Linked DNA regions of Homo sapiens. The protein of the gene in region 2 interacts with the protein of the main gene of each other region in a biochemical or structural test. Each region holds a gene or a part of one and is shown on either strand. Other genes may lie near its edges.

Region 1 (7,835 bases), on a different chromosome or scaffold from region 2:
TCTCGAGCAAAAGCTGGGTCAGTCTCTAGGACCCGGCTTTTCCGCAGAAAATCTAGCAGGTTCCCGTAGGGGGCATATTCAATAGCGATATACAAGTAACCTGAGAGGCAAAGAGACAGACAGTGGTGATTTAGACACAGGCAACCTAGGGTGGGAGCAGGCACCCGATGGTAACAGACAGGGATGAAGGAGGATCAAGGGTGGTGCACAGGTCACCAGCAGCCCCTGGCAAGCTACTCATGTGGTGGAGGTGATGGCTGAGGATGGGGGTTTGGAAGAAGGGGTAGGTGATGAGCTGGGGGCTCACCTCGGTTCTTACAGGCCCCCAGGAGGTTGATGATGTTGGGGTGATGCCCCAATTTGCACAGAACTTCCAGTTCTCCCGCAAAGTCACGATGGTCATTTTCAGAGGCATACTCTGTGTAAAGAATCCAATATTATTTTGCCAGAAATAACTCTGGAGAAAGGGCTGGCAAGGGCTGGGGTCAATTGCTGGAGGAAGCCAGGTGGGGCCTGGGATTTGTGGGACAAAGGAGAGCATCAGGGCTGGGCCAGGGGTCGCCCCAGTGGACCTTTCAGCATTTTGATGGCTGCGTTCATCTTCAGCCCGTCCTTCTTGATCATGGCCCGGATGACCTGGCCGAAGTTCCCCTCCCCGATGAGGTCCTCAAAGGTGATGTCCTCCCACTCTAGCACTGGGTAGCTCAGGGGCTCGGGCTGCAGTTTTGGCCGCCGGGTAAGTGTCAAGGTCCCTGAGCTGAACTGCAGGATGGTCTCCTCGCCCTTCACAGGATGAGACAAGAGGGCAGACGGTCCACGCAAGAGTCAAAGGGGGCGGAAGGAGGCACAGACAGGCACACGAGGAGGTTTCAGTGTCAGACAAGTGGGCAGAGACCCAGATGGAGGGCACCCTGGTGGTCAGCCAGGGACAGACAGGCAGACAGAGGACATAACTGAGACAGAATCATAGGTAACAGAGCCACAGGTAGGCTGCTGGGTGGACAGATGTCCAAGGAGAGAAATGCAGAGGCTGCAGCCAGGGGATCTAGTGTACGGGACTCTGGAAGGCAGAACCAGGGCTTGTGGGTAAAGTTGCTAGAAGCCACAATGTGAGTCAATGGAAGGAGGATATTTCTAACATTTAAAACAGAAAAGGATCGGAATGAGCTTCCTATGACTGTGCTAATCCTACAACCAGGCTTTTTGTTGTTGTTGTTGTTGGGGGTCACCAGGGAAGCTCTGGAGAAGATTCCAGCCTTAGGGAGTAGGCCAGGGGACATTTATTGAGCACCTACTACATGCTCAGCCCTGAGCTGCTGGGAGCCAGTGGAGGGGTTTTCTCCACAGTAGCAGAAGCAGAGATTACCCTGTCCACACACTTGGCTTTTCTCCATAGCTCTAAAATCAGGCCAGGACCTGAAAATAGCAAGACTATAACAAAGAGGAATGTCCAATTTCCTAACTCAGTAGGAGGAGGCCATCTGGGTGGGGCTGATGGTGGGAAAAGGAAATAAGTGAACAGGACCAAAGAAACTGCCAATATGAGAACTGGAAGCAGGGTTAAGACAGACCTTCTGGTGGGGCTTCCTAAGTGCACTGAAGTCCAGCTTGATGGGCAAGGGCTGAGGACCTGGGGCCCAGGGATTTGCAAGAAGCACTGGTGCTGACGGCACATAGCAAATGCACGTGATGTTCTTGGGCAGCACCATATGTAGGTGCATCATGTATAGGTCCATACACACATGCAGGCCTGAAGGTGCACAGGCATAGGGACACGTGCATCTGGGACACACGCATTTAAACATGTGGCACTCACAGGGGATGCACGTGTGCACTCATACATGGAGCACACACATTTGTGCACACACGTTTCCTATCCATATGCAGGCACATGTACCAGGGATATATCTTTTTGTTTGTTTTGAGACAAGGTCTCGCTCTGTTGCCCAGGCGGAAGGGCAATGGCACGATCTCAGCTCATTGTTACCTCGAGCTTTTGGGCACAGGCAATCCTCCCACCTCAGCCTCCCGAGTAGTTGGGACCACAGGTGCACACCTCCACGCCCATCTAATTTTCATATTTTCTTTTATTGTAGAGATGGGGTTTTGCCATGTTGCCCAGGCTAGGGGGATATATCTTGATATAGAGTATGACACCATGTATGTTAAGGACTGCTTTCCCACCTCCTGCCCTCGACATCTGTACCCATTACCCTCCCCCACCACAGCAGTGAGGGCTTTCTGTGTGCACTGACCTCAGAGGAAGAGCCAACACAGCTTGGAACAAAGAAGCCAATTGAATCTCTGAATGGATTTTTTTTTTTGAGATGGAGTCTCACTCACTCTGTCATCCAGGCTGGAGTGCAGTGGCGTGATATTGGCTCACTGCAACCTCTGCCATCCGGGTTCAAGCAGTTCTCCTGCCTCAGCCTCCCTAGTAGCTGGGATTACAGGCTCCTGCCACTGTGCCTGGCTAATTTTTGTAGCTTTAGTAGAGATGGGGTTTCACCAACTGGGCAGGCTGGTCTTGAACTCCTGACCTCATGATCCACCCGCCTCAGCCTCCCAAAGTGCTGGGATTACAGGCATGAGCCACCACGCCCGGCCTCTGAATGGATTTTTCAAAGGCATAGCAGAGACACTAGGCTTTCTATCACAAGGATCAGCCCTTGAGAGAGAAGAGGGTTTTCTTTCTTTTTTTATTTTTTATTTGAAATGCCAAAGCTTAGCTCTAAATATCAAGAGTCCAGGCCTGGAAGGCCAAGGACAGAGTTCAGATCCTAAGTGACGACAATGAAGAAGCCCTCAGAGGAGACAGGACCTGCGGATGGGCGGCTAGAATGTGACAGGATAAAGTGACAGTGGGTGCCCTCCCACACCCCACCTCTAAGCAGGGGCCTGAGGGACAGAAGGGTGTGGGCTACAGGAGGACAGACAACTCGGGCAGGATTACAGGGAAGCCAGGAGGAGTGGAGGTTTGTGCTTCCTCTTTCAAGGAGCAGGCCAGCACAATTCTGGAGTGGTAGAAACAGTTGTCTAAGTGGGAAGGGGTTGTGGCAGCGGTCTGAGGGCCACAGAATATGCCTCCTTCCATAAGGTATAAGGAAGCCCCTACAGTTCTTTAGTTCTGTTTCTTTTTCTTTTTTAATTTTTTGAGACAGGGTCTTGCTCTATTGCCCAGGCTGGAGTGCAGTGGCAACATCTCGGCTCACTGCAACCTCCGCCTCCCGGGTTTAAGCAATTCTCCTGCCTCAGCCTCCCGAGTAGCTGGGATTACAGGCATGCACCACCACGCCTGGCTAATTTTTGTATTTTTAGTAGAGACAAGGTTTCACCATGTTGGCCAGGCTGGTCTCAAACTCCTGACCTCAGGCGATCCACCCGCCTCAGCCTCCCAAAATGCTAGGATTACAGGTGCAAGTCACTGTGCCCAGCCCCTTTCTTAAGTCTCCAAAAGGAGGCCCTGGGATTTGCAAGAATGAAGGTTAGGATGAGGAGCTCACAGCATGACTGGCCTACTGGCAGGTGGCCACAGCAGGGCTAAGAACATCAGCCAAAGATGTGTGCAGACAGAGGCTGGCTCCCGAGCCCAGGAAGGCCTGCAAGGACAAAAGCCAGCATGAACCCCAAGTGCCCTTCCATTTGATCACCTTGCTATCTAGGCCTAGATAACCGCTAGGGAGAAATAAAAGAGGGGAGAGGAAAATCTCCAATTGACGGAGCCCAAAACTGGAATGTCCATTGTGAAATATGGTCATCACGGAATTCTTTTGAAATGGGAATATTAAATATTTCACCACTAATATAAATGGGCTCATGAGCTGAATTCAGTTTTAGAGAAATAAAGAAAATTATATTTTGTACCCTTGAACATTGTTGAGTGTAATCTTATACCTGCAACATAAACACACACACACACACACACACAAGGTGTACAAGGTATTGTGTGTACACAGGTAGAAACATAAACACGGGCTGCAAGCATGCACCCAGGGGCGGGGCGGGTCACTGACCGAGCCTGACTGGTAGGTGAAGGTGCGTCTCCGATGCAGGCAGCTTCTGCGGATGCACACCAGGGTTAAAAGGGCAGCCAGGATGGTGAGGCAGGTGGCAGACACGGAGCCCACCACCGCCAGGATCAGCTGCTGATCCAGGCCCTCTTCAGCTGCCCGGCTCTCTTGGACTGGGCCCTCAGCCTGCAGCCCTGGACACAGTGAGAGGGGCAGATTGTGGGGACACCTGGGTCAGGGAACCCAGAGGCCACCATGGGGTTACACAGAGGGAGAGGTGAAAGATCCCAGTGCCAGGACTGTCAGGAAATCACTTGGGCCACATGAAGGAAGGGATGAGGGGTGTCAGAGGGGCGACATGATTTTCCCAGCCCTGGGACAGTGGATCATGAGAATGGAAGGCTGAGTCCCCAGGACTGGGGCTGACTCTTTGTCAGGAGGGGCCTGGGATGCCCTAGCTCCACAGTAGGGGGTGATGTGGAAGGAGAGCGTGCTGAGCTCTCCCCGCTCAGAGCCCGGGGGGTCCTGTGGGCCCTGCCCTCTCACCGTTGCCCAGGGTGGACTCTTCTACTGTGTTGCTCCAGTCCCCGAGCCCCTGAATGCTGGCCCGCATGCGGAAGAGGTAGCGCGTGCTGGCGTTGAGGCCACGGATGATGGTGCTTGTCTCCTCAGGCCTGTCCACGTCTATCCACAGTGGGTCTCCTGCACCCCCAGCCACCTGCACCTCCACAACGTACTTGGATATTGGCCCAGGCAGAGCCTCCGGGTGCTTCCATGTCAGCTGGATCTCGGAGTCTGAGAGGGCCTGGGCGTGGAGGTGTCGGGGGGCTGGAGGCCCTGGGGAGATGGTGGGGGAAGGCAAGGCTCAGATAGGACCGGGCTATGTAGCTGTGGGGCTGGACACATCTGCTCTAGCTGTGCTCCCTCCTCTGTGGGTCCAAGCACAGGGGCCACCCTGCCAACTTCCTCCTCCCCACCAGACTGAATTCCTCTCCATTCCCCCAGGCCACTTTCACCCTCAAGCTTCTGCTTCTCCTTGTACTTCTTGTATCCCAAGTCCTCTCCACATCCGCCCATGCCCTGTGTTCCGCAAGTCTCATGCCCTCCCATGACCCTGGTTCTCGCCATGAACCCTGACCTCCCCATGCTCTCCCCACATGCTCCTGGTGATCTGTGTCCTCCTGGTACCCTGGATCTTCCCCAAGTCCCATGTCCCCGCTGGGGTCACGTCTGCCTAATACCCTATGTGTGTCCTGTGTCCTCTCCATGTCCATTAATCTCCTACAGCCTCCCGTGTCTCCTAGGTCTCATGTGTCCCTGTGTCCCACGTCCTCCCCCAACCCCCAGCTATCCTTGCGCCTTGCACATACCACTGGGGGGCAGAAGCACGTGTGCAGGGGGCGAGGCCGGGCCCAGGAGGGTGCAGTGGTAGAGCTGCACATCCAGCTGGTAGTGGGTGCCAGGCGTGAGTCCCGTCAGGAGGGCAGTGCGGGCCTGGGGGGATGAGACGTTCTCCCGCCGCTCCTGCCCCCGTGTCCCGTCCCACAGGCGCAGCAGGAAACCGTCGCCCACCAGTGGCCCGGGCACCAAGGGCAAGGACCAGCTCACTCGCAGCCGGTCAGTGCCTTCCACATGCCAGCCCTCCAACCACGGCTGCAACAAAGGCTCTGGGGCCAGAGGTCAGGGGTCAGAACTGTCCAGTAGGTACTTGGGGCTGGACAGGACAATGATCCCCAGTGAACAAGGAAGAACAACCTCCAGTGGGAAAGGCAGGGGTCCCTGGGGTCGACGGGAAAGTAACCCTTGGGGGGACAGGAAGGGATGACTCTTGGCCTCTCACCAGGACAGTCTGTGGTCATGAGGGTGGGAGGCCCCCAGGCCCCCTCTCCTCCTTCCCCTGGCCGGCTCAGCTGCACACGAACACTGTATCCTGTCTTTGGCCTCAGGTTCATTAACGTCACGTTCTCACTGGGGTCCACTGGGCGTGGGGTGTAAAGCACACATTATTCAGCCCCCACCTCTTCTAGAAGCTGCCATGCTCCCTTCAGCCCCCTCGCACCATTTGCCCTCCCTCTCCTGCTCACTGTATCCCTTCACTATTACCCAACACCTCTGTCCTGCCCCAGCTCTCTCCCTACTCACCCACAATGGTCGACCAGTCCATGGTACTGTCCTGGGGCCGGTAGTGCAGGCGGACAGTGGAGATGGGTCCATCCCCAGAGAACGAGACCAGCGGGGAGACCACAAGCTGGCGGCTCTGCTTGGTCAGGAGCCGAGGTGCAGCCAGGGGCACGGGGGGCACTGCCAGGAGACTCAGGGTAAGGCATGGGCACACAGCCTATCCAGTCCACTTCTGCATCTTTGTTTCAAGCTGGGGACCCTCTGGGCTTGAGGGACACCAAGTTCAACAGATGACCATAGTGGCCAGGGCCCAGGGAGGACAGAGTTCAGGCCCCTGGGTAGCTTGGGGCACAAGGATTAAGCAATAAAGGCATGAGGGTGTCCCAAAAGATGGTAGATGAGGAAGTGACATGGCCAGACATGGTTTGGGGGTGCACTCTTCCCATGCAGTGTGGGGGTAGACAGAAGGGGCCGAAACCCAGGTCAGGGAGACTACCTGGGCATCATCCTGCTCTCTGCCCCTGCCCTCATTCACCACTCTCTTATTAAAAAAAAAAAATGGCACTGGCACTGAAGCACCTGCTCCCCGCCACACGCTTCATAGCATGACCTCTAATTCTCACAGCCACCTTTCTGTCAGGGCACATTACCCTGCATTATGAAAACACTGAGACTCAGAGACACCGAATAACTTGCCTAAGGACACACAACTAGAAGGAGATACAGCCATGTGTTGAACTAGGTCTGTCTGCGCAGGCCGCCTCAGATCTATCCATTCTACTCCAAAACAGCCTTCTTGTTCCTGCCCCACTTCCTCACCCCATGATCGCTGCTCCTATTCTGGCCTCAACTTTTTCTCTCCAGATTATTGCATTAGTGCTTTTAACAGGTTCCCTTGACTCTTACAAATGTTTACCAGATTGGCTTTTTGAGAGGAAAGGAAGGAAGGAAAGAGGGAGGGAGCGAGGGAGGAAAAGGATGCCGCGCTGTAAGCTGAGGGAGTGTCAGGCAGCAATGAGCATGTCAGGAGGGCAGTGCTGATTTGCGGGGAGATGAAGGTCCATTTTGGGTGCAGAGAAGCCCTTGGTGCCTTTGGCTCACGCAGGGGATTAGATGTCCAGGAAGTGGCTGGATATAAAATGGGCCTCCGAATCATACAGCAGCTACTTTCCACACCAACTTCAAAACCAGACTTCCAGAGTAGATGCCCCACTTCATGGAGTCCCCACCAAATGATCTGGAGTCAGAAGAGGGGTCCTGGCTGCAGATCATATGTGAGAGCTGCCAGAGAACTATCAAAATCTAGGGACTAGGTGACATTTTAAATAATAACAATAATTATCGACATACATTGAGCACACACCCTGTATCGGGCACTGTGCTAAATGCTTAAATACATCATCAAATTTAATCTTTGTAACAACCCCATCAAGTGCTAGCTATCCCCATTTCACAAAGAGAGAAACAAAGTAAGAGAGGTTAAGTAGTTTCCTTAAGGTGATGGGGCAAGGAATTTGTGGAGAGAGGATTCAAGCCCAGGTTGTCTGGCTCCTAAGCCTGGGCACAGTGAGAAGAGAAAGGCGGAAGGTGAGGCTTGATGGCAGAGAGTCATGCATAGTCACGGGATAGGGAGATGGCGAGGACCTGGGAGGCAGAGTGTGGCAACGAGAAAGCAGAAGGTGAGAGAGGGGGCTTACATGGGGT
Region 2 (8,671 bases):
AGTTTCTATCATCAGGGAGCTCACAACATGGCCAGTGAAACAAATATGTAGATCAAGAATTACATTGAACTTCAAGCACTGCCAATGAGTATTTTCTGAGGCAATTGTGAATACTCCAAATCTAGAATGCCAGCAAGTTTCTAGGGGTTCTTTCTTTTCCTATCACTAACATCTCCAACATTAAGCGCTGGCTTTCTTTTGGGACCACTTTTTTCTCCCTACAAAGAAACTATTTTGAATACTTAACAACCTTGACTTCCCCCAAAGAGAACAATAAAGTCATGTTGACATTCAGAAGCCAAGCAGTCAGCTAGGTTCACTCAGGAGCACTTACAAATCAGCCTTCTGCCTCAAAATTCCAATGCCAGTGCAGCTTTGTAAATAATTACAGTCATGGATTTACAGGGTTGCTTATTAATATTTAAAAATAAGAAAGTTAAAGCTCCAAAAGTCATGGTTCTAGTAATCTATTAGTTTGGTGCAAAAGTAATTATGGTTTTTACCATTGAAAGTAATGGCAAAAACTGCAATTACTTTTGCACCAACCTAAATATGAAGTTATTGTTGAAACATAATTGCATTTGTGAATAATAATAGTAAAAATAATATTGTTAAATAACTTGTCTAATATCACTCTCATAGTGTTCATTGAAAAATCTTTAAACTCTATTCAAAATATTTTGTTAACTAGTAATTTAGAAACATTTTCAAAAGCAAACCTTGAATTGAGAATTGTTTTCCAGTTAAACCTATTAACTAGATTTATTTTATACAAAATGTCTCATCCACACAGATTTGAATAACAGAGGTTTTATTGTACTAAGTAAGAATTAGACAGAAGCTTTGATGAAGAGACACAGAATTATTGAAATGTCAATCACTGGAGAAAAAGTGTAAAATGTAAAAAACAAAAACCTTTACTTTTTAATAATTTTTAATTATTATTTAGAAAATAGTTAAATGCTGAACATGAAAAGAATTCCTCTCTAAAGTAACAACTGCATCTCTATATTGTTTCCCAGGGTTTTGGAAATCCCTCCGGTGAATATTGGCTGGGGAATGAGTTTATTTTTGCCATTACCAGTCAGAGGCAGTACATGCTAAGAATTGAGTTAATGGACTGGGAAGGGAACCGAGCCTATTCACAGTATGACAGATTCCACATAGGAAATGAAAAGCAAAACTATAGGTAAGTCATGCTACAGTGTAGTGTTCGACTACCTTTTACCTAGCCACTTAATAATTGTAGTGGGAAAATATGAAAAAAAGAAATGAAAATCATCCTTCAAAATGAAAATTCTTTTTTTTTTGTCTAGACCTATTACAAAGAGGTACAAAAAAGCCTGTAAAGACTTTTTCAAAGATTTAAATTTCAGTTTTCGTAGGTTGACTATCTTTGATATTGGCTTAAATTTTAGGGAATGGTGAATGAAGTCAAGCATACTGTTGTTCTGTGGTTATCATGCAGTTGCAGTGAATTCATATATATAAAACTGATAAGTTTCATACTCAAACTCATTGGCTTAAATAATCTCTTTATTCTAAAAAAAGATTTTCTGGTTCTACTTTTTTTGATGACCTTTCTTGAATTAGCATTTTTCAAATGATCTTGAAGATGACAAAAGTAAAATTTTTTTATGTTTGAATGATTTACATAAAAGAGAAGATGAGGCATGATTTAGAGGGTTTTCTTGGTAAATCTAAAAAGCAAAAATAAATTGTAATAATGGCATCAATATACATAATACATGATTGCAGATGTAAAAATAGATAAACTATACACTTAATGATACATGTTTCCAATTATCCTTTTTCAATGAGAAGCTCGTCTACTAGGGAAAAATAAACACACAAAAATATGGCTAAGGAAATAATGTGATGTGGTGGATTCATTGCACGAACACTTATTGTGTTACTTCTGTGTTCCTGGAATTCTACTGGGCGCTGGTCTTACAGACGTCAAAGTCAAGCTTTGTTACTAACTAGGTCACTAAAAACTGGCTGGCATTCCTTGGGAACAGGGAAGATATTTTAGTTACTCTTCTACTGCTACTCATTAATGCAATTCTTGATGCCTAGCAGGTCTTTAATTGTGTGTGCCTCAGTTTCATTCTTAGTAAATTAGAGTTGTAATGATTTTTAACTCTCAATATTGTGACTGCTCTACCTCTGTCTTGAAAATATGATTGTATGAATTAAAGGGTGGGCACATTGCTTCAAGTAATTGCAACAATAGCAACCCAACCCTTGCGTGTGTTTTGTTTCAACCTGTGTGGTTATCTCATAGTTCAACTGTTTCTGCTGCTTATTTGTCTTTTCAAGACAAACCTTTTTTTTTTAATTTTTTAAAAGTTTGAATTCTGCATATTTTCATAGGCACAACTCATTTCATTTTAATGGATTATGTATGGGGTTGGATCCTTGGAGACATAATAATCATTTTCTCGACAAATAGTAATGATGTCACCACAACAGAGAATGAGAAATAGATCTAAAAGAGTTGATAGTCTCATGGTGGGGGTGGAGGGGAAGCGAGGGTGTACTTAATGGCAGCTCAAGAAACCAAAGAAGAGACATTTATAAAATGCAATGGAGTGTAAGAAGAAATGTTTCCAAGGAGGTCAATATTTTGAAAGTTTTATAACAAGAAAACCACTGTTAAACATCAGGGATACTCTTATGTAAATGTTTTGACCTGAAACTTGAAACTATATGAAACTTGGCTAATGTCAGACAGCCTGACAATAGGACTAGCAAATAATTAGTCTAGTCTTTTCCTAGGCTCCTGAAGAATTTGCTTTGGTTCCTTTCCAAAATGTCTCTCAGTTTTTCATAGGTGGCTGCATGTGTGTGTGTGTGTGTGCATACACATGCATATGCATGTGTGTCAGGCTTGGAGGGTGTTGCGGGACAGAGTGTTGGGGCAGGGTTAGGAGGATTGTTGGCATCTGTGGTGCACTTCGGAGTGTATGATGTGTATGCCATTCTGCCATCTGCATGAGGAAGGAGTACTCACCTCCTCTTAGAGTGCCCCACTGCCCTTTTGAGCATTTCTCATTTCTTTGACATCTGTGTGATTTTGTATTCTCACCACACAGTAGGGATCTATGATCAAAAAGTAAGTCTTCCCTGCTAGGGTGATGCATACACTCTGATATCCCCATTTTTCTTTCTTGATAGAACTGTGAACCTTGAGAATCAAAATTATAAAGCCAGAAGAAATGTAACAATTTAATTTCAAACCTCTGGTTTTATGGGAAGGAAAGCTGAGGCTCATATATATATATATATATATATATATATATATATATATATATGGTTCATATATGTAATATATATATAATATAATATATGATATATAATATATATGAACTCTTCAAGCCTCACACACATGCATATGCATGTGTACACACGCACACACACACACACACATACACACATATATATACATATGAGCCTCATATATATAATTTTGCCCAAAAAGGGAGAAAGACTTAAATAAGGGATGTCTAACTCCTGCCTCATTCAATGTGGTTTCTGTTCTGTCATGCTGCTGACATGAAGTTAGTGGTTCTGGCCTCTTTCCTGCAGGGACCTAACAGAAAGTAGATGTGCAGTCATCATTTTCTCATGCAATTCAAGTATACGATTCACGTTGACATGAAATGGGAAATGAGAACTCATTAAAACATAATGCTTACTCTGGTGAAAGATTCATTAAAGTAAACACACTATAAGATGGTGTTATTCGCTTTTTCAAAGAAAAATGGAACAGAAGCCTGAAAACAGAAGCTAAGCCCTTGCAACTTTTCTCCCTGCCTGTATCATCACGTATGCCCAGTACTGCTTCTCTAGGCCCATTAATGCCTCCCGTGGCCTGCAGTTAGAACTCACATTGTCCATCACTGCCTCATGTGCTTTTTGTCCATTCATGTCTCGTCCCTCTGAATTGGCGTGTGTCTTTGTGATCAATTGTTTCAAGTATTAATACTAAGATTTGCACAGTATTCCATAACCTATGAAATGATTTTTAACACTACAAGCATATAAACCTCTTTTGGAGGTAGGTATTATTAGACACATTGTTTTTTTGAGACGGAGTCTCACTCTTATCGCCCAGGCTGGAGTGCAATGGCGCGATCTCGGCTCACTGCAACCTCCGCCTCACCGGTTCAAGCAATTCTCCCGCCTCAGCCTCTCTAGTAGCTGGGACTACAGGTGCCTGCCACCATGCCTGGCTAATTTTTTGTATTTTTAGTAGAGACGGAGTTTCACCGTGTTAGCCAGGATGGACTCGATCTCCTGATCTCGTGATCCGCACGCCTCAGCCTCCCAAAGTGCTGGGATTACAGGAGTGAGCCACTGCTCTGGGCCTAGACACATTTAAAAAATAAGAAAACTGAGGTTTTGGTCAGTTGACTTGGTCAAATTCAACTAAATTCCGACTGAAATATAAAACTATGAAATTCATACTAGGTTTTTGTTTTATATTTTTTGTTTTCTATAACTTTTCTCAAAAATTAAATTAAATTAAATTAAATTCAGAATTGTTTGAGGTTTTATTTTCTAAAACATATTCTATCATGGAAATTTTGTTTGAAAATTCTTGTAACAGGTGTGGTCCTAATGTTTAAACCTAACTGTGGTGTTGTTTTTTAAAAAAACATTTATCATGCTCTTGACATATTAATTAAAAGAAAGTGTTGTGAATGGATAGATGAGCTTATAAATGTGCATGTATTACACATATTTTTCTTTTATCCTCTAAGGAAACTCCAAATAATTTTCTCAGATAGAAAATAAAATCTGTAGAACCCAAGAGAATATAAATAAGAAAAAATAATAATGTAAGAGTGTCATGATAAGCATAGCATATGAACTAACATGTATCAATGTGAAATTATTTAATACTTCCTCTAGAGAGGTAGTATTATCCAGATCCTCATCATCTAACACCCAGGCAATTATAGAACCTTCCTGCCTCTTTAGTCTTCATACTCTCATATATATCTTCCATGCTGTTGTTGAGATGATTTTTCTAACAGACAACTTGGTCTTTCCCTCCTTCATATATTTCAACAGTGTTCAAATATCTGCAGGTAAAAGTCTACCACTAAGACTCTTCGTGACCTGGCCACTACCTAATTATGCACCTATTGCTGCCATACACTCTCCCTAACTTTACCTACCTGGATACCCTTCTCATTAACGGTTATGTTCTGGTAACTATTTGCGATTGCCCTAAATCCTCCATGCCTTTGTTTATGCTATATTCTTACTCACTCAACACATAAACTTAACTTTGTCACATGGATACATCTTAAATCTTTAAGATTCTCTCTTATTCCAAGTCTTCCCTGATACCTACTGTGGTAGATGTAACGTGTCAACCCATTGCCTCCTTCAATACTAAAGCGCTTCTTTCTTCCACTTCCGGGAAATGTTGACTGACAGGTTGCAGCTGAAGTCCCCTTTCCAGGCACTGTTTGTAGTTAAAGAAAAATTAGCCGGGCGTGGTAGCACATGCCTATAATCCCAGCTGCTCGGGACGCTGAGACAAGAGAATCACTTGAACCCCGGAGGTGGAGGTTGTAGTGAGCCGAGATTGCGCCATTACACTCCAGTCAGGGCGACAAGAGTGAAACGCCATCTCAAAAAAAAAAATAAAAAAAGAAAGAAAGTAACATCACCCAAGATTACTTCTTGCAAGATACATTGTATCTAATGACTGGTCAATATAAGAATATGAAGACCCTCTTGCCCCAATTTGGGGCAATTCTGAAGAGCCCCTCAGAATCCAAAATTCCACTTCAGATTAGTTGAAGTCTTCACCATGACAGCATGTGAGCCCTGAATCTCCCTTTGCTGAGTTCTGCATGCTTCACTCTGCCACGGATCCTGGGACCTCTCCCTTCTCAACCTCCCTACACTGATTTCCCAGAGAAATGCATCACCCTCATTCTTAGGCCAATTTGGATACTCTGTGCTCCCATTGACCCGTAGCACTCTGGATAACTATCCAGGATCCAAATCCTGTTATAAGTCATTAATGAGTGACTGTTAACTATCTTTAACTTGTGCTCTCTCTCTCCCCCCCCCTTCCTTTGAGTGTGTGTGTGTGTGTACACGTGTGTGTGTATGTGTGTGTGTTCTAAGCTTTTAAAGTGTAGAACCCATTTTGGAAAAATTCAAGATATGTAACTAATTTAGCCAAATTACTGACTAAGCTAGCTATATTTGAGGCACACATACTATACACCAGATGTCTTGTTTTCACAAGAGAAAACTGAGGCATAGTACTTTGCACAAGGTCACAGGCACTGATAACGATGAGTAGGAGTCCGATTTGAAATTTGGTCTTATAACTACCCACCATATGGGCATCCTCAAATAAAGAAGTTCATCAGTTAATTTCTAGAATTAAATAAACCCAAAACACATACTCTAAGATATAGTATATGTTTATTCTAACCCTACTTCTCTCTTTAATAATTTGAATGCCTTTGGACACATTACCTATCTTTCCAGTTCTCAATTTTCTATTCTTACAAGTTAAAGTATTTGTAAAGCACCTTGTAGCTCAAAAATTTTCTACAATAGAACTACCTTTACCTGTGCATCACTATTTTTATTACCTTTCAATTCTTTGATAAAAAATTAAATTTGATCTCTCTAATAAACACTTGAGAGTTTATTATCAGTTTAAAAAAACAAATACACAACCACCACTGCAACAATAAATGCTTTAAAAATATTTTAATAATAGCAGATTTATTGTAGGGTTGAGGAGATGCTATGTCCACTGGAAGGAGCTCTGGAGTCGGAATCAGGATGTGGAGGCTGAGAAGAAATCTGGCTCTACCACCTGGGAAACTGGCATGGTTGTATTTGTCAGTGTTCAGTCAGGGGAGCAGAGCCATGATGAGTCTTACGGAAATAAGGTTAAAACATATGCTTGAAATTTGGCATGGCAGACAAGCCAGAGCTTGTGAAAATCTAAGAAACCAAACACGTGTAGCCACCAAAGTGGAACCACAAAAGGGAAGATCTACAGAAATTTGTTGCCTTGCTGTAGTTCCATTAAATGAGGTTGTGCAGTCAAGCATCTTGTGGTGGGTCTGGAGCTGTTGCCAGCATCAGGAAGACAAGCTGGGTGCTAAGTGAAGAAATACACAATGTAGAAACTGTCAGGCATCTCTGCCCCTGGACTTCACCATATCTGATGACGTTCTCAGAGTCAGGCCACTGCTTCACTTTCGCCTTCCAAATCTCACACAAAATTCTCTTTTAGCCAACCCCAGCTTAGAACCTTACAATGAAGGGGATTCAGGGAAATGGAGTACCCAGATTAACCAAGTTGATATTACTTTTATGCCTCAGTTTTCTTATCTTTCAGTGGGAATAATATCCTCGAATCAAAAAGAGTGTACATATATACCTTGTATTTGGTAAACTTAAATATCATGCTAATACGAAAGCTGTTTAGAGACTGGGTACAGTGGTTCACACCTGTAATTCCACCACTTAGGGAGGCCAAAGTGGGAGGACTGCTTGAGGTCAGGAGTTTGACATCAGCCTGGGCAACATAGCGAGAACTTTGTCTCTATTAAAAATTAAAAAAACAAACATTCACTTGGCGTGGTGTTGCACACCCATTGTCCCAGCTACTTAGGAGGCTGAGGCAGAAGGATTGCTTGAGCCCAGGAGGTTGAGGTTGCAGTGAGCTGTGATTGCACTGCTGCATTCAAGCCTGGCTGACAAAACATGACCCTGTCTTTAAAAAAAAAAAAAAGAAAAGAAAAGAGCAAACAGACTTTTTAAATTAAATTTTTATCATGCCCAAGAAATATATTATTGAGTCAATAAACAATTTTTAATTATATATTCTATATCGAAATCACCACTATTGTCTCCAACAATGTCCTTGGCTGGTTGATAGTTGTTTATTTACTTGGATTCAGGATCCCATCCAGCTTCACTCATTGCATTTGCAGTCATGTCTCTTGAGTCGCCTTTTACCTGAAACAGTCTACCACTCATCTATCAATTACATTTTTCAAGACTTTGGGTCAGCTTTTCCCAGAACAGCTCTTTCTGGGCTTATCTGACTATTTCTTTCTGATTAGATTCAGATTAAAGCTTTCTTGAGAAGAATACTAAATAAATGATATTGTCTATTTCCCATTCTATCACATCCAAAGGCACAAAAGATTAATTTGTTCCATTATTGATTGGGCTAAGCTTAATCACTTGTTAAGGTTTTGTTTTTGGTTTTTTAATGGAATACCTATTCTCTCCAAAATTCTTACAAAGGATCATAATGTATGAAACACGTAAAGCTGATCTATTTTGAAATGGTTGTGGGAAGGTAGTATAATATTTCCTCTTGCTATTATCTCAAACATTAGTACAGCACAGTTTAAAAACCATTGTGTTATATTATTATAAATAAAAAAGTAGAATTTACCAGTTGGAAATAAATTTCACTGTACTATTTTTAAATGTTAAAAGAAAACTATATAAAAATTTTTCTGCCTTAATATTAAAAGGACACAATTTTAGTGAACATATTCCATTATAAAGTCATTTTGCAGGTAATTATTTTCAGATCTTGGGAACAGTTTGTTCCTTACAGTTCATTATTTTGTTGTCTTTTATGCTATTAACTTAA
Region 3 (8,807 bases), on a different chromosome or scaffold from region 2:
AGTCTCTGGCCAGGGAGTATGGGCAAGTGTCTGCAGGCAAGGAAGAAATCTTGGAGCCCAACAAGAGAGACTGGGTTTATTCCGCTCATTTCTGGTTGTGTGACCTTGAATACATCTCATCCTCCCTGGGCCTCACTTTCATCATCTGCAAAATGGGGGTAACAGTCCCCACTTCACAGGGTAGCTCCGGGAATGAAGTGACTGGAAGATGCCCTGCAGGGAGCCTGAGGCGCACCAGGCACTCCGTGTGCAGGCTCTCCGCTGCCCACCGCTGTTGGTATTGTGCAGGTAGCGGGGTCGGCAGTCCATGGCCGGGCCCCTCACCCTGGCTTGCCAGGGCTACTCTGCTGGATGTGGGTCCCGGACTCGGCAATTCAAGTTCTCGCCTTAATTTTAAAAATCAGTTGCTAATGGTTAACATAAAAGCGAATCTGGTCAAGTATTAAACAAATAAATCCGGTGAGATTCGAACAAATGCCAACGGCAAGAACAGAAAAATTAAACAGCAAGCCGCCTGTATATGTGTTTAAGAAAATGTAGTCGCACATCCAGGGCCTCGCCGGCTCGGGAAGGGACCGCTTCGGAAACCTCCCGGGCCACCTCTGCCTGGGAAATGCCACAAACTGCTGAGAAAGTCCCGTGAGTGTTCTGATACTTCGGTTGGAAATTTAAATGTCGGAGTTTGGAGGGCGGGGACGTTCTCTAAGCTAATTAGGTGACCTGGAGCTCTCATGGAGACCCAGGAAAGACCAATGTCTCATAGCTCCCTGAGAAATCTTCTTCCTCCCGGCGGTGCTCACGTGGAGTCCTCGCCCACAATGGACCGACGCTTTCGCAGCCCAGCCCGGGTCCTCCCAGGGGCCCGGCCAGCGATGCATCTGAGGTGACAGGTGGGGGACCCTGCACCTCTCTCTGAAAACTGAACCCCAGCCCAGGCATCGCTCCGAGCTCTCAACCCAGGCATCCGAGTGGAAAGTGGCAAGCCCGGGTCCCCCAGCCTTGGTGCTGCCTCCCCTGCGCGCGGGACAGGGGAGAGAGGAAGGAGGGATGCTGGCCTGGAGAGAGGCAGGAGGGACACTGACCTGGAGAGAGGCGGGAGGGACACTGACCTGGAGAGAGGCGGGAGGGACACTGGCGTGGAGAGAGGCGCGCGGGACAGGGGAGAGAGGCGGGAGGGACACTGGCCTGGAGAGAGGCGGGAGGGACGCTGGCCTGGAGAGAGGCGGGAGGGACACTGGCGTGGAGAGAGGCGGGAGGGACACTGGCGTGGAGAGAGGCGGGAGGGACGCTGGCGTGGAGAGAGGCGGGAGGGACGCTGGCGTGGAGAGAGGCGGGAGGGACGCTGGCCTGGAGAGAGGCGGGAGGGACGCTGACCTGGAGAGAGGCGGGAGGGACGCTGGCCTGGAGAGAGGCGGGAGGGACACTGGCGTGGAGAGAGGCGGGAGGGACACTGGCATGGAGAGAGGCGCGCGGGACAGGGGAGAGAGGCGGGAGGGACACTGGCCTGGAGAGAGGCGGGAGGGACACTGGCGTGGAGAGAGGCGGGAGGGACACTGGCCTGGAGAGAGGCGGGAGGGACACTGGCCTGGAGAGAGGCGGGAGGGACACTGGCGTGGAGAGAGGCGGGAGGGACACTGACCTGGAGAGAGGCGGGAGGGACACTGGCGTGGAGAGAGGCGGGAGGGACGCTGGCCTGGAGAGAGGCGGGAGGGACGCTGACCTGGAGAGAGGCGGGAGGGACGCTGGCCTGGAGAGAGGCGGGAGGGACACTAGCCTGGAGAGAGGCGGGAGGGACACTGGCGTGGAGAGAGGCGGGAGGGACGCTGGCCTGGAGAGAGGCGGGAGGGACGCTGACCTGGAGAGAGGCGGGAGGGACGCTGGCCTGGAGAGAGGCGGGAGGGACACTAGCCTGGAGAGAGGCGGGAGGGACACTGACCTGGAGAGAGGCGTGAGGGACACTGGCCTGGAGAGAGGCGGGAGGGACACTGGCCTGGAGAGAGGCGGGAGGGACACTGACCTGGAGAGAGGCGGGAGGGACACTGGCGTGGAGAGAGGCGGGAGGGACGCTGGCCTGGAGAGAGGCGGGAGGGACGCTGACCTGGAGAGAGGCGGGAGGGACGCTGGCCTGGAGAGAGGCGGGAGGGACACTGACCTGGAGAGAGGCGTGAAGGACACTGGCCTGGAGAGAGGCGGGAGGGACACTGGCCTGGAGAGAGGCGGGAGGGACACTGGCGTGGAGAGAGGCGGGAGGGACACTGGCTGGCCTGGAGAGAGGCGGGAGGGACACTGGCCTGGAGAGAGGCGGGAGGGACGCTGACCTGGAGAGAGGCGGGAGGGACGCTGGCCTGGAGAGAGGCGGGAGGGACGCTGACCTGGAGAGAGGCGGGAGGGACGCTGGCCTGGAGAGAGGCGGGAGGGACGCTGGCCTGGAGAGAGGCGGGAGGGACACTGGCGTGGAGAGAGGCGCGCGGGACAGGGGACAGAGGCGGGAGGGACACTGACCTGGAGAGAGGCGGGAGGGACAGGGGAGAGAGGCGGGAGGGACAGGGGAGAGAGGCGGGAGGGACGCTGGCCTGGAGAGAGGCGGGAGGGACACTGGCCTGGAGAGAGGCGGGAGGGACACTGGCCTGGAGAGAGGCGGGAGGGACACTGACCTGGGAAGCCCGCGGCTCGGGGCAGGCGAGGATCAGGAGCAGAAGGAAGAGCGCGCGCGGAGAGCTGGGCACCATCTTGCCAGTCGGAATCCCGCTGCCTGGGAGGGGAAATAACTTTGCCTCCGCTGCCGAGTTTGTCCCAGCGATGCGGCAGCCGTCCCTGCAGGGTGCGGGGCGCCGCGCGGCCGGGGGGCGGCTGGGGCAGGGGGGGAGGCGGGAGGCCCCGAGCGCAGCGCGTCCCGCGGGGATCGGCGCCGCCCGGGCCTTGCGAGGGTCCAGGTGCGCCCGCAGCTGCCCGCACGAGACAGTCCGCGCGAGGCGGGGAGGCGCCGGCCCCTGGGCTAAGGACGAGGGAGGAGGGGCTGCCCGGCCGGGAATGCGCCCGGGAGCGCGCCCAACCCGCGACGCCGAGGACGAGCGCGGGCATCCTCGGGGCCTGGCAGGGATGGGCGGCCAGTGCCCCGCATATGTGCGGGTGACTGGAAGCCCACCCTGGGCGGGTTCACTCCCGACCGTCCTATTTCCCAACCAAGTAGACTGAGGCTCAGTCACCAAGGACAAGTGGCAGAACAGAAACCCAAACCCAGGTCTGTCCTACTTCAAAGCCCACGCGACACCCTCCTCCCGACATTCCTAGAAGGGGGCCAGGAAATGGGCTTCATAAGCTTGACGTGGGGTGGACTGAGCTCTCCATCCGAATAAACTAGTGTCCCTTTAAATAATGCAATGGGGCCGTGAGAACACGCACGCACAGTGAGTAGATACACACACAGTGATACAGTGAGGGGATCTACGTCCTTCTGATTCACTGTCCTCCTTGCTCAAGGGAAGGAGAAACTCAGTTTAAATCGGAGGTCAGGTTCTAGAACATTGCCTGCCTTGCTGAAGTCGAATCAGGAAGTGCCAGGCCGGCATGAGCAGTCTGAAGTCCCCTGCCATCAGGGCTGTGGTACAACCAGATGCCTCAGACCTGAGCTCCCGGAAGGCATGACTGACGTTCTTCCTGGAAGGTTTTCTGAAGGCAGTCACTGCAGATGTCCTGGGACACACAAGTCTGGTCAAGCCCCAGATCTCTTTTTCCTCTTCCACATTTCACTTTGTTGAGCCCACTCAGAGCTCAGGGAACGGGGAGCCCACAAGACTGTGACCACAGAGCAGGAGCTGTTTCCCAGCAGAGGCCAGAAAGGAAAGCTGGAGTCCTGGCTTAGTCCCTTCAAACTGCTATAGCAAAATACCATAAACTGAGTGGCTTATAAACAATAGAACGTGTTTCTCACAGTTCTGGAGACTGGGAGGTCCAAGATCAAGGTGTCAATAGATTAGGTGTTTGGCGAGGGCCAGAGTTCTGGTTCCCGTGTCCTCACAGGGGAAAGGCAGCTCTCTGGGGCCTCTTTTCTGAGGGCACTAATCCCAATTTTGAGGGCTCTGCACTCATGACCTAGTCACCTCCCAAAGGTCCCACCTCCTAATGCCATCATCTTGGGAATGAGGTTTCCAACATATAAATTTAGGGGAGACACCAACATTCAGAACCTAGCCAGTGCCCCAAAAAGCAGGGGACATGGTTTAGGCTGGCCTCCTGGGCATTGGTTGCCCAGGAAATCCTACAGTGCTGCTCCCCCAACCTTCCCATGCAAAGGAGGTGGAACGGGACCCATGTAAATCTTTTTTTTCTTTGAGACGGCGTCTTGCTCTGTTGCCTAGGCTGGAGTGCAGTGGCCTGATCTCAGCTCACTGCAGCCTTGCCTCCCTGGTTCAAGTAATTCTCCTGCCTCAGCCTCCCAAGCAGCTGGGGCTACAGGCATGCACCACCACGCCTAGCTAATTTTTGTATTTTTAGTAGAGACAGGTTTTCACCATGTTGGCCAGGCTTGTCTTGAACTCCTGACCTCAAATGACCCACCCGCCTCAGCCTCCCAAAGTGCTGGGATTATAGGTGTGAGCCACTGCAGCCTGCAAGGGATCCATGTAATTTTATTTTGCATTCCTGGTTGAACATCCTGAAGAGAGACATGGTCATACCCCTGCTTCTCCCTATCCAGGTGGAGAGGACGGGACAGCATGGCCCGATCCAGGGCAGCCTGTGGAGATGGTGGTTTTCTGCCTCGATCTCTCATGTGTTTGCTGTCTGTACCAAAAGCCAGTGCCCTGCTCCCTCTCTGTCTCTCTGTCCTCTGCCCTATCCTTGAAAAGCTTCCTCCTGGTCAGTGTGGCTGCATTTATTAATATTTTGTGTCCTATCCCACCTTGTGTTTACATGGCGACCTTCTCTGGAAGGCCAGCTGTTCTGGCTCTCAGCCTTGTTCTGGCTATGCGCTGGTAACCAGACATCGGGCAGATGTAAGCAAGCCTTCTTTTCTCTTCTCCTGCCCTTTCTGTGGAGTCATAAAGCTGGAAGAGATTCTTGATTTCACAGATGAAGAAGCTGAATCGGGGCATGGTTGACTGACTTGCCCAAGGAATGCAAACTCTGGTCTCAAGATCCCCCTCCCAGAGCGGTGCTGTTTCTAGGACAGACTACCTTTGACTTTATCCCACCTCTCATTTTAGGGCTACTATGTTGCTTATATTAAATACATGATCATAGCATTTCAGGAATTTTATTTACAGTAATGGGGGGTTTTCTGTTTTTTTGTTGTTGTTGTTTTTTGTTTTCTTGGGTTTTTGCTTTTGTTTTTACTTTTCAAATATTTCTAAGTTTCAACAGGATTTTTTTTCCTATGTAATTATTTATATTTGTAACCCTTTCCCTATGGCTGCCTTCCCTCTAAGTGTTCTGGCATCTGGTCTGAATGAACCTTCTAAGATCTGACTGCCCCAGCAGCACTGTCCTTTCTCTGTCTTTGTCCTCAGCTGCCCTGGATCTGCAGTAATCAAGGCAGAGCCTATCAAGTCCAGAACCTACCAAGGCTGTCTACAAGCAGACAGCCCATGAAAATCAGCTGGGTGCTCTACCTTTAAGCCCCCAACCCTCACCTTTAACTGAATACAATGGGCCTATCAGCCTTTTTTTTTTTTTTTTTTGAGACAGTCTCACTCTATTGCCCAGGCTGGAGTGCAGTGGCATGATCTCAGCTCACTGTAACCTCTGCTGCCTCACAGAGGCAATCTATTCTCCTGCCTCAGCCTCTCAAGTAGCTGGGATTACAGGCACCTGCCACCATGCCCAGCTGATTTTTGTATTTTTAGTAGAGACGGGGTTTCACCATCTTGGCCAGGCTGGTCTTGAACTCCTGACCTCGTGATCCACCCGTCTCAGCCTCCCAAAGTGCTGGGATTACAGCCATGAGCCACCATGCCTGGCCCTTATCAGCTAGTTTATTCCTCTATTTCCCCTCTATTTAGTTTTCAAGAGAATATTCCTGAGTGTCGGGGGATTGGTTTGGTGGGGTTCAACATGTCTACAGAAAGTATTTTAAACATCTTTTGGTAAGATCAGTTGCCATCTCCTTGGATTAGTGCTCTGATACATTCAGGTTCTCTGTGTAACATAGGCATGCAACACAAAATGGGAAGATTTGTTGCAGAAATTTGTCTTTAAGACCCCAACAGAGGCCAGGTGCGGTGGTTCATGCCTGTAATCTCAGCACTTTGGGAGCTGAAACAGGCGGATCACTTGAGGTCAGGAGTTTGAGACCAGCCTGGCCAAGATGATGAAACCCTGTCTCTACTAAAAGTACAAAAATTAGCCGAGTGTGGTAGCAGGCACCTGTAATCCCAGCTACCTGGGAGGCTGAGGCAGGAGACTCACTTGAACATAGGAGGCGGAGGTTGCAATGACCTAAGATTGTGCCACTGCACTCTGGCCTGGGCAACAGAGTGAGACTCCATCTAAAAAAAAAAGAAAAAAAAAAGCTGGGTGTGGTGGCTCACACCTATAATCCCAGCATTTGGGAGGCTGAGGTGGGCGGATTGCGAGGTCAGGAGATCGAGACCATCCTAGCTATTATGGTGAAACCCCATCTGTACTAAAAATACAACAAATTAGCTGGGCATGGTGGTGGGCACCTGTAGTCCCAGCTACTCGGGAGGCTGAGGCAGGAGAATGGCATGAACCCGGGAGGCAGAGCTTGCAGTGAGCCAAGATTGCTACTGCACTCTAGCCTGGGCGACAGAGTGAGACTCTGTCTCAGAAAGACAAAAATAAATTAAATAAATAAACAGATGCTAGCAGAAGCAAGATCCAGTCTGAAATTATCCTTCCAGAGCTGTCCTGGGGGCTCCTCTGGGTCCCCAGTGGTGCCCCATACCATGTTGCATACCATTTTGGGTTCATGGACTTACTGATTCAGCTATGGCTGAGTCTTACTGTCAGCTCATTTGCAGCTGCTTCTCTCCCTTTTCATCCTTTACCCCACATTTCTCTGTGGTTCTAAATGTCATCAACCCCTACGAAGCACCTACAGAGGTCCCAGGAACAAAGTCCAGCATGTTAGCCTGACAGGATAATAGGGTAGAAACCGTGTAGGGAGAACGGTCTAGCAGAGGTGCAGTGACTTCATCCAATTCATTCACTACAAAAATATCTATCAAGTGCCAACTCCGGGCATGGCCCTGTACCAGGCACTACATTCTCACATTATATCTAGAGCTTTAGCCAACAGAACTGTGCAGTCCTGTGCTGAAAGGTGAAGAGACTGTCTACTTATGTATGATATCAGGACTGCCAGTAGAAACCGTTCCCCCTAGAAAAGCATTTCCAATTTTACAAGATGAAAGCCTGTAGAAAAGCAGATTTCACTGTGCTGTGATTAAAGACCAAACACCAGTTAACATCTGCCAAAAGGAGCAAGACATTGAACATCCACGAATGCCATTCCACATGCCTTTGGAAGCAGCAGAGATGGTGGATGCAGTCAGGCACACACAGCCTTTGAAGTCAGACGTGCCTCGGCCAAATCTTACCCCCTTCTTGCTGCCAGTGTGAACTTGTAACCTCTTAATCTTTACAGGCCTCAGCTTCTTGATTTATATATGAGAATACAAGTATTTATCAAAGAGATTATGAGATTTCAAAATAATAAAGTGCCTAACACAATGCTGAGCATAAAGTAAGTGCTCAGTTAAAGGGACATTGCTTATACTGATGGTCCTTCATACAGGGACAACATAAGAAGGAAACAAACATGTCTTGAGCACCTACTGTAAACCAGTCACAAATGCTCTCATTTGTTCTCATGACAACCCAGTGAAATGGGTCCCATTATTAATCTCATTTTACAGATTGTGAAACTGAGGCTTAGAATGCTTCAGTAGGTTGCCCAAGATCAAACTGAAATTGAGTAAATGCTAAGCAAAAAGAAAACCTGGATAAAAGGTGTAAGTGCTAATTTTGCAACTTTTAAGTCTAAAATTATCTTTAAATAAATGTGTGTATAATTTAATATTTTATTTCACCTTATGTCAGTTATACATTATAGTTTTCAAGGAATTCTTTAATTTTATCTAATTTGCCAAATGTAGTGGCATAAAATGGTATTATTCACTTATCTTTTTAATGGCTGTAGGATCTGTAGTGGTAGCCCTTCTTTTGTTCCTAATATTGATGATTTGTGCTCTTTCCCTTTCTTCTTAATTATTATAGCTAAACATTTATAAATTTTGTTTTTCTTCTCAAAGAGACAACTTTTTGCTTTGTTAATTTTCTCAAGTGTTTGTTTAAAATTTCATTGGTTTCTGCTCATATCTTTATTTGTTTCAATAGCACCTAGGATTTGTTTTAATCAGATGTGGTAAGATACATAGACATGAAAATAATTTCCATGAAGAAAGAAGTTTTTATTATACTCACAGTCTCCTAAGAACAAGAGGGATGGTATGTCATGCAGGATCACACAGGAAAATGCCCAGGTGAGATGAGCAGGCAGAGAGAGAGGAAAAGAGAGAAAGAGAGAGAGAGAGAGAGGAACTGTGGACAAGTGACTTTATTGTGGTTTTTGCAGGAAGGAACAATTGAAACAAGGTAAGCAAGCTAAGCAGGTTTAGGATTGGATAGTTTGAAGAGTTTGGATGGGCTCTAGGCTCTAGGGGTAGTCCCTAGTTGTCCAGCACCCAGCTTTGCGGTGTTTAGGGCAAAAGGATATCGTAGCAGATAAAAGGAAACAAGCAGGAGTATGAACTTGGGGTTATTTGGTTTGCATATAAAATGCATGC

Evidence for each region.
Region 1: the proteins of ANGPT1 (region 2) and TIE1 interact in a biophysical measurement, tested with the Homo sapiens proteins (2 studies listed by BioGRID and IntAct, with this or other methods).
Region 3: the proteins of ANGPT1 (region 2) and FBLN7 form a complex in vitro, tested with the Homo sapiens proteins (one study listed by BioGRID).

What each region holds. Positions count from the first base shown.
Region 1 is NC_000001.11:43,310,147-43,317,981, reverse strand, and holds part of TIE1 (tyrosine-protein kinase receptor Tie-1 isoform 1 precursor), read right to left. Parts: intron 6,312-7,835; coding exon 6,153-6,311; intron 5,989-6,152; coding exon 5,851-5,988; intron 5,678-5,850; coding exon 5,381-5,677; intron 4,848-5,380; coding exon 4,557-4,847; intron 4,205-4,556; coding exon 4,014-4,204; intron 3,600-4,013; coding exon of another isoform or gene 3,516-3,599; exon of another isoform or gene 2,683-3,515; intron 784-2,682; coding exon 573-783; intron 419-572; coding exon 308-418; intron 101-307; coding exon 1-100. UniProt on the Homo sapiens protein: Transmembrane tyrosine-protein kinase that may modulate TEK/TIE2 activity and contribute to the regulation of angiogenesis.
Region 2 is NC_000008.11:107,277,200-107,285,870, reverse strand, and holds part of ANGPT1 (angiopoietin-1 isoform 1 precursor), read left to right. Parts: intron 1-1,022; coding exon 1,023-1,189; intron 1,190-8,671. UniProt on the Homo sapiens protein: Binds and activates TEK/TIE2 receptor by inducing its dimerization and tyrosine phosphorylation.
Region 3 is NC_000002.12:112,132,578-112,141,384, reverse strand, and holds the start of FBLN7 (fibulin-7 isoform 1 precursor), read right to left. Parts: upstream 3,001-8,807; 5' UTR 2,730-3,000; coding exon 2,655-2,729; intron 1-2,654. UniProt on the Homo sapiens protein: An adhesion molecule that interacts with extracellular matrix molecules in developing teeth and may play important roles in differentiation and maintenance of odontoblasts as well as in dentin formation.